2 separate regions of the Homo sapiens genome follow, and region 1 is linked to region 2. The links come from fine-mapping of genetic effects on gene expression. A gene starts in region 2. The other region holds a variant in brackets. All regions are shown on one strand. Distances are from middle to middle. Region 1 overlaps ZFP14 (ZFP14 zinc finger protein). Region 2 holds the start of COX7A1 (cytochrome c oxidase subunit 7A1).

The links. PIP is the estimated chance that this variant, and not a neighbour inherited with it, causes the effect. A credible set is the group of variants that fine-mapping cannot tell apart.
Region 1: its variant is the best candidate, but not a certain one, in a credible set for the expression of COX7A1 in thyroid (GTEx, PIP 0.67).

Annotation. Positions count from the first base shown.
Region 1 is chr19:36,331,979-36,337,320 of GRCh38, reverse strand. ZFP14 (ZFP14 zinc finger protein) reads left to right here. Exons shown (of 5, transcript NM_020917.3): 5 at 1-2,868. Among named protein-coding and RNA genes, the nearest start is that of LINC00665, 2.9 kb to the right of the region's middle. The variant G/A (reference allele first, on the strand shown) is at 2,997.
Region 2 is chr19:36,150,372-36,155,710 of GRCh38, reverse strand. It overlaps COX7A1 (cytochrome c oxidase subunit 7A1), which reads left to right and starts at 3,264. Exons shown (of 4, transcript NM_001864.4): 1 at 3,264-3,318; 2 at 3,956-4,042; 3 at 4,165-4,249; 4 at 4,677-4,789. The coding sequence starts at 3,304. The coding sequence ends at 4,729. RefSeq lists an enhancer at 1-368.

The sequences.
Region 1 (5,342 bases), 180 kb before region 2:
ACAGATCCAGAATGTGTGAAATTCTACAGAGCAAATTACCTGATTTCTTCAACTAACAGGTAGCATGAAAATACAAGGGGAAGGGCAACCATTAACAGATTAAAAGAGACTTAAAGAGACATATCAACTAAATTCAGTATGTTGGCATTACTTGGACCTGGTTTGAACAAAACATAAAAAGCCATTTTGGAGACAGTGAGGGAAGTGTGGACATGGACTAAATATTAAATGATATTTACATATATTAATTTGGTTAGGGATTATGTCAGTGTGATTATAAAAAATAAAAGATCGTATGATATGAGATACATACTATGAAATGAAGATAGACACATTTGGATTAAAATATTCTAGCAAAAGAAATAATTGGCAAAGAGAGCTGGAAACTAAATTGGCAACATGTTGATAATTTAAGTGGAGTGTTTTGTTCATGGAGACTTATTGTTCTAATATTTCTACTTTTGTATGTGTTTGAAATTTCAATAATAAAATGTTTAAAATCAAAACCAAAATTATAGACTATGTAGAAATGAATGACAGTGAGATGCCTGCACATCTAACCTTGTCAGATATAATCAAAGTTCTGTTCAGTGACAAATTAATGCCCTGTAATGTGGTAAGGAAATCTTATTTGTGGATACAGTCTTCATCTTCTTCACTTACCCACAGCAGCAACACCAGGCCTGTCACACAGATGAATGTGTTGAGGGAATGAATAAGTATTTCCGTCAAGAAAAAGGAAACAACAAAATAAAACCAACCCAAGTAAAGAACAGCCAAGTGGCCAGGTGCGGTGGCTCATGCCTGTAATCCCAGCACTTTGGGAGGCCATGGCAGGTGGATCACCTGAGGTCGGGATTTTGAGACCAGCCTGACCAACACTGAGAAACCCCATCTCTATTAAAGATACAAAATTAGCCAGGCATGGTGGTGCATGCCTGTAATCCCAGCTACTTGGGAGGCTAAGGCAGGAGAATCACTTGAATCCAGGAGGCGGAGTTTGTGGTGAGTTGAGATCGCGCCACTGCACTCCAGCCTGGGTAACAGAGCAAGAGTCTGTCAAAAAAAAAAAAAAAAAAAAAGGAACAGCCAAGTAACAGTAGAAAGTAGAAATTAAGAGAATGGAGAATATTAGACTTGATTCAATGTTAATAGTGATTAGATTTTGGCAGTTATAATCAAGGAAGAGAAAATGAAAGATAATACATTTAGAGTATTAATGATGATAAAAGAGACACAACTCTAGATTATATCAAGCAGATTTTTAAAATTATAAGGCAAAACTAGGCCGGGCACAGTGGCTCACACCTGTAACCCCAGCACTTTGGGAGGCCGAGGTGGGTGGATCACTTGAAGTCAGGAGTTCGAGACCAGCCTGACCAACATAGCAAAACCCCATCTCTACTAAAAATACAAAAATTAGCCTGTCATGGTGGCGGGCACCTGTAATCTAAGCTACTGGGGAGCCTGAGGCAGGAGAATTGCTTGAACCCAGGAGGCAGAGGTTGCGGTGAACCAAGATCACGCCACTGCACTCCAGCCTGGGTGACAGAGTGAGAACCTGTCTCAAAAATAATAAACATAATATGGTAAAACTATACATGCACACATGCACAAACGTGTATATTCATTCCAGTACAAGTAAAAATGTAGGATTGCATTTTTCCCCCAAAAGGAATATGTTTTACAATTAACTCACCGTATAACCCAAATAGATTAACAAAAAATGTGTGTGTGTGTGTGTGTGTGTGAACTCCCTGTTTAAAAAATCTGATACTTATAAAAACTTTAAGGAATAGATAATCCTAAAGATTTTACCAATTAATTCTGCAAGGTAAAATAATCCTAATAAAAATTAGATGAAGATAGTTTCTGAAAGCAAATTCTAGACCACCTTCATTATGAAGATTCTATTTTTCACAATTCTAAATAAAGTTTATTTAGAATTTATTACAAAATCTATCTTTGCTAATAGGTCAGTGTTTCTTTTCCCAAGCACCAAATACCTCCAGAAAGCCTGTGTTTGACCCCTAAATTCAACATTCTCCAGAAGTTTGCTTCAAGGAATATTAATTCTCGATGGTATTTGAAAAAAAGATTTCTTGGGAAAATAGGCAAATGAAGCAAAACATAAAACATCTACTTTTGGCCAGGCACGGTGGCTCACGCCTGTAATCCCAACATTTTGGGAGGCCAAGGCGAGCAGATCACTTGAGGTCAGGAGTTTGAGACCAGCCTGGCCAACATGGTGAAACCCTGTCTCTACTAAAAATACAAAATTAGCTGGGCGTGGTGGCTTGCACCTGTAATCCCAGCTACTTGGGAGGCTGAGGCAGGAGAATTGCTTGAACCCAGGAAATGGAGATTGCAGTGAGCTGAGATTTTGCCATTGCACTCCAACCTGGGCAACAAGAGTGAAACTCAGTCTCAAATAAAATAAAATAAAAATCTACTTTTGAGGAATTCAAAGTATACATGATCAGTTTGCCAAAGATTTAGTAAAGACATTTTTATTTAACTGAGTGTATCTCAAATTTATTGTGGAATTCTCAGTCCGAATATCTGGAATAGGAACAGCTTTGTTAGATGCTACCATAACCACAATGAATGTCTTCAAGGGTGTAATTTTAGATATGGTGAGTGGTTGTGTTGGGGGCGGCATAAGTCAGGGCAATTTTTTGCAGCTCATATCATGCTCTGAAAGTAGCTACCTGCTTTAATGGATGGTTAGTGCTTTTCTATAGAATGGAAAAGATTCCAGCCCGATCCTTGATATGTTTGTGTTAAACATGCTTATATATTATATTAAACAATGATTAAGGACATAAATGAGTTTCTGTGGTAATAAAGATGCTATATTGAATATCATTTTGTGTATTTTTTAATTTCCTTAAAGAGTCAAGAATCTAAGGTATTACCTAGAAATGAAATTGTTCGTTATAGGCTGTATACACTTTCAGCTTCACTGCTTATTGCCAAATTGTGGCTCCACCATT[G/A]TTCCAGTTTTGAATCCCTTTGATCATTGAATATCAGTGTTCATATTTCCCTACCTCTGCTATAAGTTTCAATATTTATTACACTGGGCCAGGCACGGTGGCTCACACCTATAATCCCAGCACTTTGGAAGGCCAAGGCAGGAGGATTGCTTGAGCCCAGAAGTACGAGACCAGGCTGGGCAACATGGCAAAACTCCATTTCTACAGAAAATACAAAAATTGGTTGGGTGCGGTGGCATGTGCCTGTGGTCTCAGCTACTTGGGAGGCGGAGGTGGACGGATCACTTGAGTCTGGGAAGTCAAGGCTGCAGTAAGCTGTGATCATGCCACTGCACTCCAGCCTGAGTGTTGGAGTGAGACCCGGTTTCAAAAAAAAAAAAAATTATTACCTTGATTACAAGTGAGTCAAGCATCTGTTCATATGCGTTTATTGGCCAATCGTGTTTACTGTGCTTTTTAATGATGCCTTTGCTGTATTTTTTTTTGCATTCTCATTTATTGATTTTTCAGGATTCTTAAAATAGTTTAGTATCGGTCGGGTGCGGTGGCTCACGCCTGTAATCCCAGCACTTTGAGAGGCCAAGGCAGGTGGATCACCTGAGGTCAGGAGTTCAAGACCAGCCTGGCCAACATGGTGAAACCCCATCTCTACTAAAAATACAAAAATTAGCTGGGCGTGGTGGTGCTCACCTGTAATCCCAGCTACTCGGGAGGCTGAGGCAGGAGAATCTCTTGAACCCAGGAGGCAGAGGTTGCAGTGAGCCGAGATCGCGCCACTGCACTCCAGCCTGGGTGACAGAATGAGACTCCCTCTCAAAAAAAAAATTTTTTTTTTAGGTATTGATCATTTTAGGTATTAAACATTTATAACCTGACCTCAAGTTATCTGCCTGCCTCGACCTCCCAAAGTGCTGGGATTATAGGCATAAGCCACCAATTCTGGCCTCTTTTTCTCTCCAATTCTGAAGCTTCACCACAAAGCAGTCAGAAACCAGGGACAGTAAGCCAGGAAATGAGGAAAAGAACTGAAAAGGCAGAAGCCATCCATATTTTATTTCCTCCTCTGCCATCTTACCACACTCCTTCCCCTTCCCCCACAGCATGGCTGAACTAAGGGAGAGCAGAACCCTCATCTGTAAAAAATGCTTAAGGTTTCTTTTTCTTTCCCTCCCTCCCTCCCTTCCCTTCTGTGGGGAAAAGAGAGATCAGACTGTTACTGTGTCTATGTAGAAAGAAGTAGACATAAGAGATTCCATTTTGTTCTGTACTAAGAAAAATTCTTCTGCCTTGAGATGCTGTTAATCTGTAACCCTAGCCCCAACCCTGTGCTCACAGAGACATGTGCTGTGTTGACTCAAGGTTCAATGGATTTAGGGCTATGCTTTGTTAAAAAAGTGCTTGAAGATAATATGCTTGTTAAAAGTCATCACCATTCTCTAATCTCAAGTACCCAGGGACACAATACACTGCGGAAGGCCGCAGGGACCTCTGTCTAGGAAAGCCAGGTATTGTCCAAGATTTCTCCCCATGTGATAGCCTGAGATATGGCCTCATGGGAAGGGTAAGACCTGACTGTCCCCCAGCCCGACATCCCCCAGCCCGACACCCGAAAAGGGTCTGTGCTGAGGAGGATTAGTAAAAGAGGAAGGCCTCTTTGCAGTTGAGGTAAGAGGAAGGCATCTGTCTCCTGCTCGTCCCTGGGCAATAGAATGTCTTGGTGTAAAACCCGATTGTATGTTCTACTTACTGAGATAGGAGAAAACATCCTTAGGGCTGGAGGTGAGACACGCTGGCGGCAATACTGCTCTTTAATGCACCGAGATGTTTGTATAAGTGCACATCAAGGCACAGCACCTTTCCTTAAACTTATTTATGACACAGAGACCTTTGTTCACGTTTTCCTGCTGACCCTCTCCCCACTATTACCCTATTGGCCTGCCACATCCCCCTCTCCGAGATGGTAGAGATAATGATCAATAAATACTGAGGGAACTCAGAGACCAGTGTCCCTGTAGGTCCTCCGTGTGCTGAGCGCCGGTCCCTTGGGCTCACTTTTCTTTCTCTATACTTTGTCTCTGTGTCTCTTTCTTTTCTCAGTCTCTCGTTCCACCTGACGAGAAATACCCACAGGTGTGGAGGGGCAGGCCACCCCTTCAATAATTTACTAGCCTGTTCGCTGACAACAAGACTGGTGGTGCAGAAGGTTGGGTCTTGGTGTTCACCGGGTGGCAGGCATGGGCCAGGTGGGAGGGTCTCCAGCGCCTGGTGCAAATCTCCAAGAAAGTGCAGGAAACAGCACCAAGGGTGATTGTAAATTTTGATTTGGCGCGGCAGGTAGCCATTCCA
Region 2 (5,339 bases):
CTCAGAAGCTCCCCCACTGAGCACTTTGTGACCCCTTCGCCCCTGCCCACCAGAGCACAACCCCCTTTGACAGTAATTTTCCATTACCTTCCCAAATCCTATAAAATGGCCCCATCCCTATCTCCCTTCGCTGACTCTCTTTTCTGACTCAGCCCGCCTGCACCCAGGTGAAATAAACAGCCATGTTGCTCACACAAAGCCTGTTTGGTGGTCTCTTCACACGGACGCGCATGAAATAAACAAATAAAGAAAATGAAAGAAAAACAGGACAGGCACAGTGGGTCACGCCTGTAATCCCAGCACTTTGGGAGGCCGAGACAGATGGATCACCTGAGGTCAGGAGTTCGTGACCATCCTGGCCAACATGGTGAAACCTCGTCTCTACTAAAATACAAAAAATTAGCCAGGCGTGGTGTCGTGCACCTAGTCCCAGCTACTTGGGAGGCTGAGGCAGGGGAATCACTTGAACCCGGGAGGCGGAGACTGCAGTGAGCAGAGATTGCGCCATTGCACTCCAGCCTGGGTGACAGAGCGAGACTTCATCTCAAATAGAAAAAAAAGAGGCTGGGCGTGGTGGCTCACGCCTGTAATCCCAGCACTTTGGGAGGCCGAGGCGGGTGGATCACGAGGTCAGGAGATTGAGACCATCCTGGCTAACACGGTGAAACCCTGTCTCTACTAAAAATACAAAAAAAAAACTTAGCTGGACGTGGTGGCGGGCGCCTGTAGTCCCAGCTACTGGGGAGCCTGAGGCAGGAGAATGGCGTGAACCTGGGAGGCGGAGCTTGCAGTGAGCCGAGATGGCGCCACTGCACTCCAGCCTGGGTGACTGAGCAAGACTCCGTCTCAAAAAAGAAAAAAGAAAATTAAGACAGTCAAAACCATAGTATTAACTTGTTTGTTTTGTTTTGTTTTGAGATGGAGTCTCGCTCTCTTGCCCGGGCTGGAGTGTAATGGCGTAATCTCTGCTCAGTGCAACCTCCGCCTCCCAGGTTCAAGTGATTCTCCTGCCTCAGCCTCCGGAGTATCTGGGATTACAGGCACCCACCACCACGCCTGGCTAATTTTTGTATTTTTAGTAGAGACGGGGTTTCACCATGCTGGCCAGGCTGGTCTCGAACTCCTGACCCAGGTGATCCACCCACCTCGGCCTCCCAAAGTGTTGGAATTACTGGCGTGAGCCACAGTGCCTGGCCCCCATGGTATTAACTTTGTGTTAGAGAATCTGTGAATACTTGGTATTTTAAGAATTTGTAATATTTAAGGTAAACTGGCCTATTCAAATAACAGGTCAATCTTGTAATTCCATTGTAAAATGTGGAATTCAGCTGGTGACTAAGACTTACTTGAAATCTGTTTATGTACAGTTTATGAATTTTTTATTCATAAAAGTTATTTAAGAATTGAAGAAAGAGTCATCTGTTTATCTGGTAAGTCAGCTTTTTTTTTTTTTTTTTTCTGAGACAGAATCTCGTTCTGTCACCCAAGCTGGAGTGCAGTGGTGCAATCTTGGCTCACTGCAGCCTCCGTGCCTCTTGGGTTCAAACGATTTTTGTGCCTCAGCCTCACAAGCAGCTGGGATTGTAGGCGCCCATGACCACACCTGGTTAATTTTAGTATTTTTAGTAGAGACAGGGTTTTGTCATGTTGACCAGGCTGGTCTCAAACTCCCAGCCTCAAGTGATCCACCTGCCTTGGCCTCCCAAAGTGCCGGGATTACAGGTGTGAGCCACCACGCCCAGCCCTACTTGTGGCTCTTAAATGGAAAAACCTAACATTAAATTTACAAGCATAGTTTGAAAGTGTTAGGGGAATTTAATAATCATAAAAGCCCTCTTTAAAAGAGACCGTGGCTGGAAGCGGTGGCTCAGGCCTGTAATTCCAGCACTTTGGAAGGCCAAAGTGGGCGGATCACCTGAGGTTGGGAGCTTGAGACCAGCCTGGCCAACATGGTGTAACCCCATCTCTACTAAAAAATACAAAAATGAGCTGGGTGTGGTGGCGGGTGCCTGTAATCCCAGCTGCTCAGGAGGCTGAGGTACAAGAATTGCCTAAACCCAGGAGGCAGAAGGTTTCAGTGAGCCGAGATCACACCACTGCACTCCAACGTGTACAACAGAGCAAGACTCTGTCTAAAAATATAAATTAAATAAATAAATAAAAGAGATTGTTAAAACCTTTTACAAGCTGGGTATAGTGGCTCATGCCTCTAATTCTAGCACTTTGGGTGATAGAGGTAGGAACATTACTTGGAGGAGTTGGAGACCACCCTGGGCAACATAGCAAGACACTGCCTCAAAAACAAACAAACAAACATTGTCTGCTGGCTGGGTGCGTGGCTCACGATGAGGCCGGCAAATTTCTTGAGCTCAGGAGTTCGACACCAGCCTGGGCAACATGGTGAAACCCAGCCTCTACAAAAAATACGAAAATTAGTTCGAGCATGGTGGTGGGCGCCTGTAGTCCCAGCCACTCAGGAGGCTGAGGCAGGAGGATCGCTGAACCCAGGAGGTCGAGGCTGCAGTGAGCTATGACCGCACCACTGCACTCCAGCCTGTGCAACAGAGCAAAACCCTGTCTAAAAAAAAAAGAAAAAAAAGAAAAGAAAAAGAAAACCTTGTAGACTAGGCCAGGATCTTTCCTGGTTGCTAAAACCATTAGGACAACTGTGCTGCACCCCGTTGACTGCCAGAATTAGAGAGCTATAAATAGATATGATGTGTTTCTTAGGGTAACATAAAATACCGTTTTACTCCCAAAGACTTTAGCTTGTGTTTCCTAAAAACAAGGTCATTTAATGTCTCAACAAATCTCTGAGAAAGATCCTGCCTTAGCCCTCACGTTACAGATACGGAAACAGGCTCGGAGGTGCAATCTCTGGCTGTGTAGACAGAACAGGGAGTTGGAACACGGCCTTATGCGTTTCCTCACTCTCACATACCAGCGGGCAGGGAGAGATCCGGGGAGGAGTTGCACTTGCCCCCGGCGGAAATCTCCAAAAATCTGCAAAAATGTATTCCCTGGTACCGCTTTGGGCTCCGGTGGGACCAAGCGAAATTCCGAGACCGAAACGGATGCGCGCTGCGGCCCAGGGTGCGGGTCTGGACCGCCTCCTCCGTGGTGGACGAATCCGAGGAGCAGGACTCCCCGCAACCCAGCCCCAGCCCCAGCCCCAGCCCCGCCGCGTCCCCAGCTGTCACGCTGCGCGCAGCGGGTGGGGCCTGGGGTTCCTGGACAGAGGAGGACTACGCGTGTCCTTGGGCGGAGAAGGGAGGTGACTCCGGCGGAAGAGGACAAGGCAGAATGCAGGCCCTTCGGGTGAGGCCCCCATGGGCTGGGCCGGAGCCCCCCACCCAGAAAACCCCGCCCTAATACGCGACTCTCCAAGTGCCCCCGCATCTAGGGCCTTGGAACGTGAGCCACCTTCAGGGCCTGGGACTCCCCGCTAAACAGCCTGGGTCCCTTCCCCCACAATCCACTCTTCGGAGACAACTGGGGACCCCCACCCCGGCCCAAAGCCCCGGGTTTGAACTTGACATCTCGGGAACCCTTAACACTGGCCTCACCCGGGCCTTCTCAGGCAGCCTGGACGCTCCCGGGGACCTCCATTCCGGTCCCCACGTTCCCGGGACCTGGTTTCCTCCCTTTAATCCAGGAAACCCTCCCCCAACAAAAATCTCAGGACTTAGGCCCCCCAGAACAAAGTCCTTCTGGGTCCTCTCCCTTCCAGGACCCTCTAGGCAGCCCGGTCACCCCCAGGCCAGACTCCAGGGCGAGTCCCCTCCCAACCCAGCTGGCAGTTCGCGGGTAACAGAATCCAAGCTATTACCCTCCTCGCCTTTGGGACGCTCGCTAGGGATGGGGCTGTCCCCACGTCCAGGCCTCAGAGAGCGGGGTCCCACTTCAGGACACCCCTCCAGGTGCCTCCAATACCCGCCCACCTCCCACCCCGCAGGTGTCCCAGGCGCTGATCCGCTCCTTCAGCTCCACCGCCCGGAACCGCTTTCAGAACCGAGTGCGCGAGAAACAGAAGCTCTTCCAGGTGGGGGGTCGGGGGGGGTGGGGATCCGACGCGCCAGCCGGGAGCGCGCCGAGCCGGGGCAGGCGGGGCGCGCTCTAAGGAGCAGCCAGCACCCCTTTCTCATCAGACACCCCCACATCCAGGAGGACAATGACATCCCGTTGTACCTGAAGGGCGGCATCGTTGACAACATCCTGTACCGAGTGACAATGACGCTGTGTCTGGGCGGTGAGCGCAGGGCCCGTCTGGGCTGCGGGGGAGGCGGGGCTGGACCCAGAGTAAGAGGTGGCTGGTTTCTGGGCAGGACTGACCAGGATCTGGGTTGGGGGTTGGCGTTTAGGAAGGGGGTCGAGTACTGAGCTGGAGTCAGGCCTGCAGGGAGGGGAGTAACTAGGGTTTGGGCTCTTGTCCCAGGACGGGGGCTGGGTTAGTGGTGGGGCTGAGGCCCAGGGAGGAGTCGGGGAGAAAGCTCCCAGCCCGGTCTAGATCAAAGCCAGGGGGCTTTACAATAGGAGTCCAATCTGGGAAGGGAGCTGGAGTCCGAACTAGAGCTGGGGTCCAGGCTGGGAACCAGGGAGCCTGAAGGCCTTAAAAGCCTGGGATGTCCAGGGAGGGGATTAGGTCTCATTCTGTCTCCAACGCTTCCCCTTTCTAGGCACTGTCTACAGCTTGTACTCCCTTGGCTGGGCCTCCTTCCCCAGGAATTAAGACCAAGAAGCCTGGGGGGCCTGAGAGACTTGAACAAGTGTCAATAAACGCTGGCCTCTGTGTGTGTCTGTGTTTGTGTCCACCCCTCCCCACCAAGCCCATCCTCCCACCAGCCAGGGATCTCTGCCCTGTGGACTGCCCACTGCCCCCAGCCCTCGGTGCCTCATGCTGGACCAGGGATACTCCTAGGATGTTGCTACCTCTCAGCCCTCTGCTGAGTACCCCAAACAGCACCCATAGGCTCCCCCTCGGGACCCGGGGACGTGGGGTGGTGTCCTCAAGTGGGAAGGAAGACACTGAGCATGGTCCATGACACAACAGAGGCAGAGGCCAAGTGTGGATGGAGAAGCTGCAAGAGGGGCAAACATGGCCTTGGGGGACAGGGCCAGGAGTGGCATTGAGACCTCCCTCCAGCCCAGACTCTGGAAGCAGAAGCAGAGATCACTGGGGCTTCTGGGTCCTGTCTCAGCCTCCACAGCTCAGGATGAGACAAAAAATGCCGACGAGAAAAAGACGAGGAAATCCACGGATCCAGCCCTGGGGACGAATCTACTACCTCCCCTGCTCCCCAGGACCCAGAGCCCGAGCCACCCCTCCTCTCTCGGGTCAG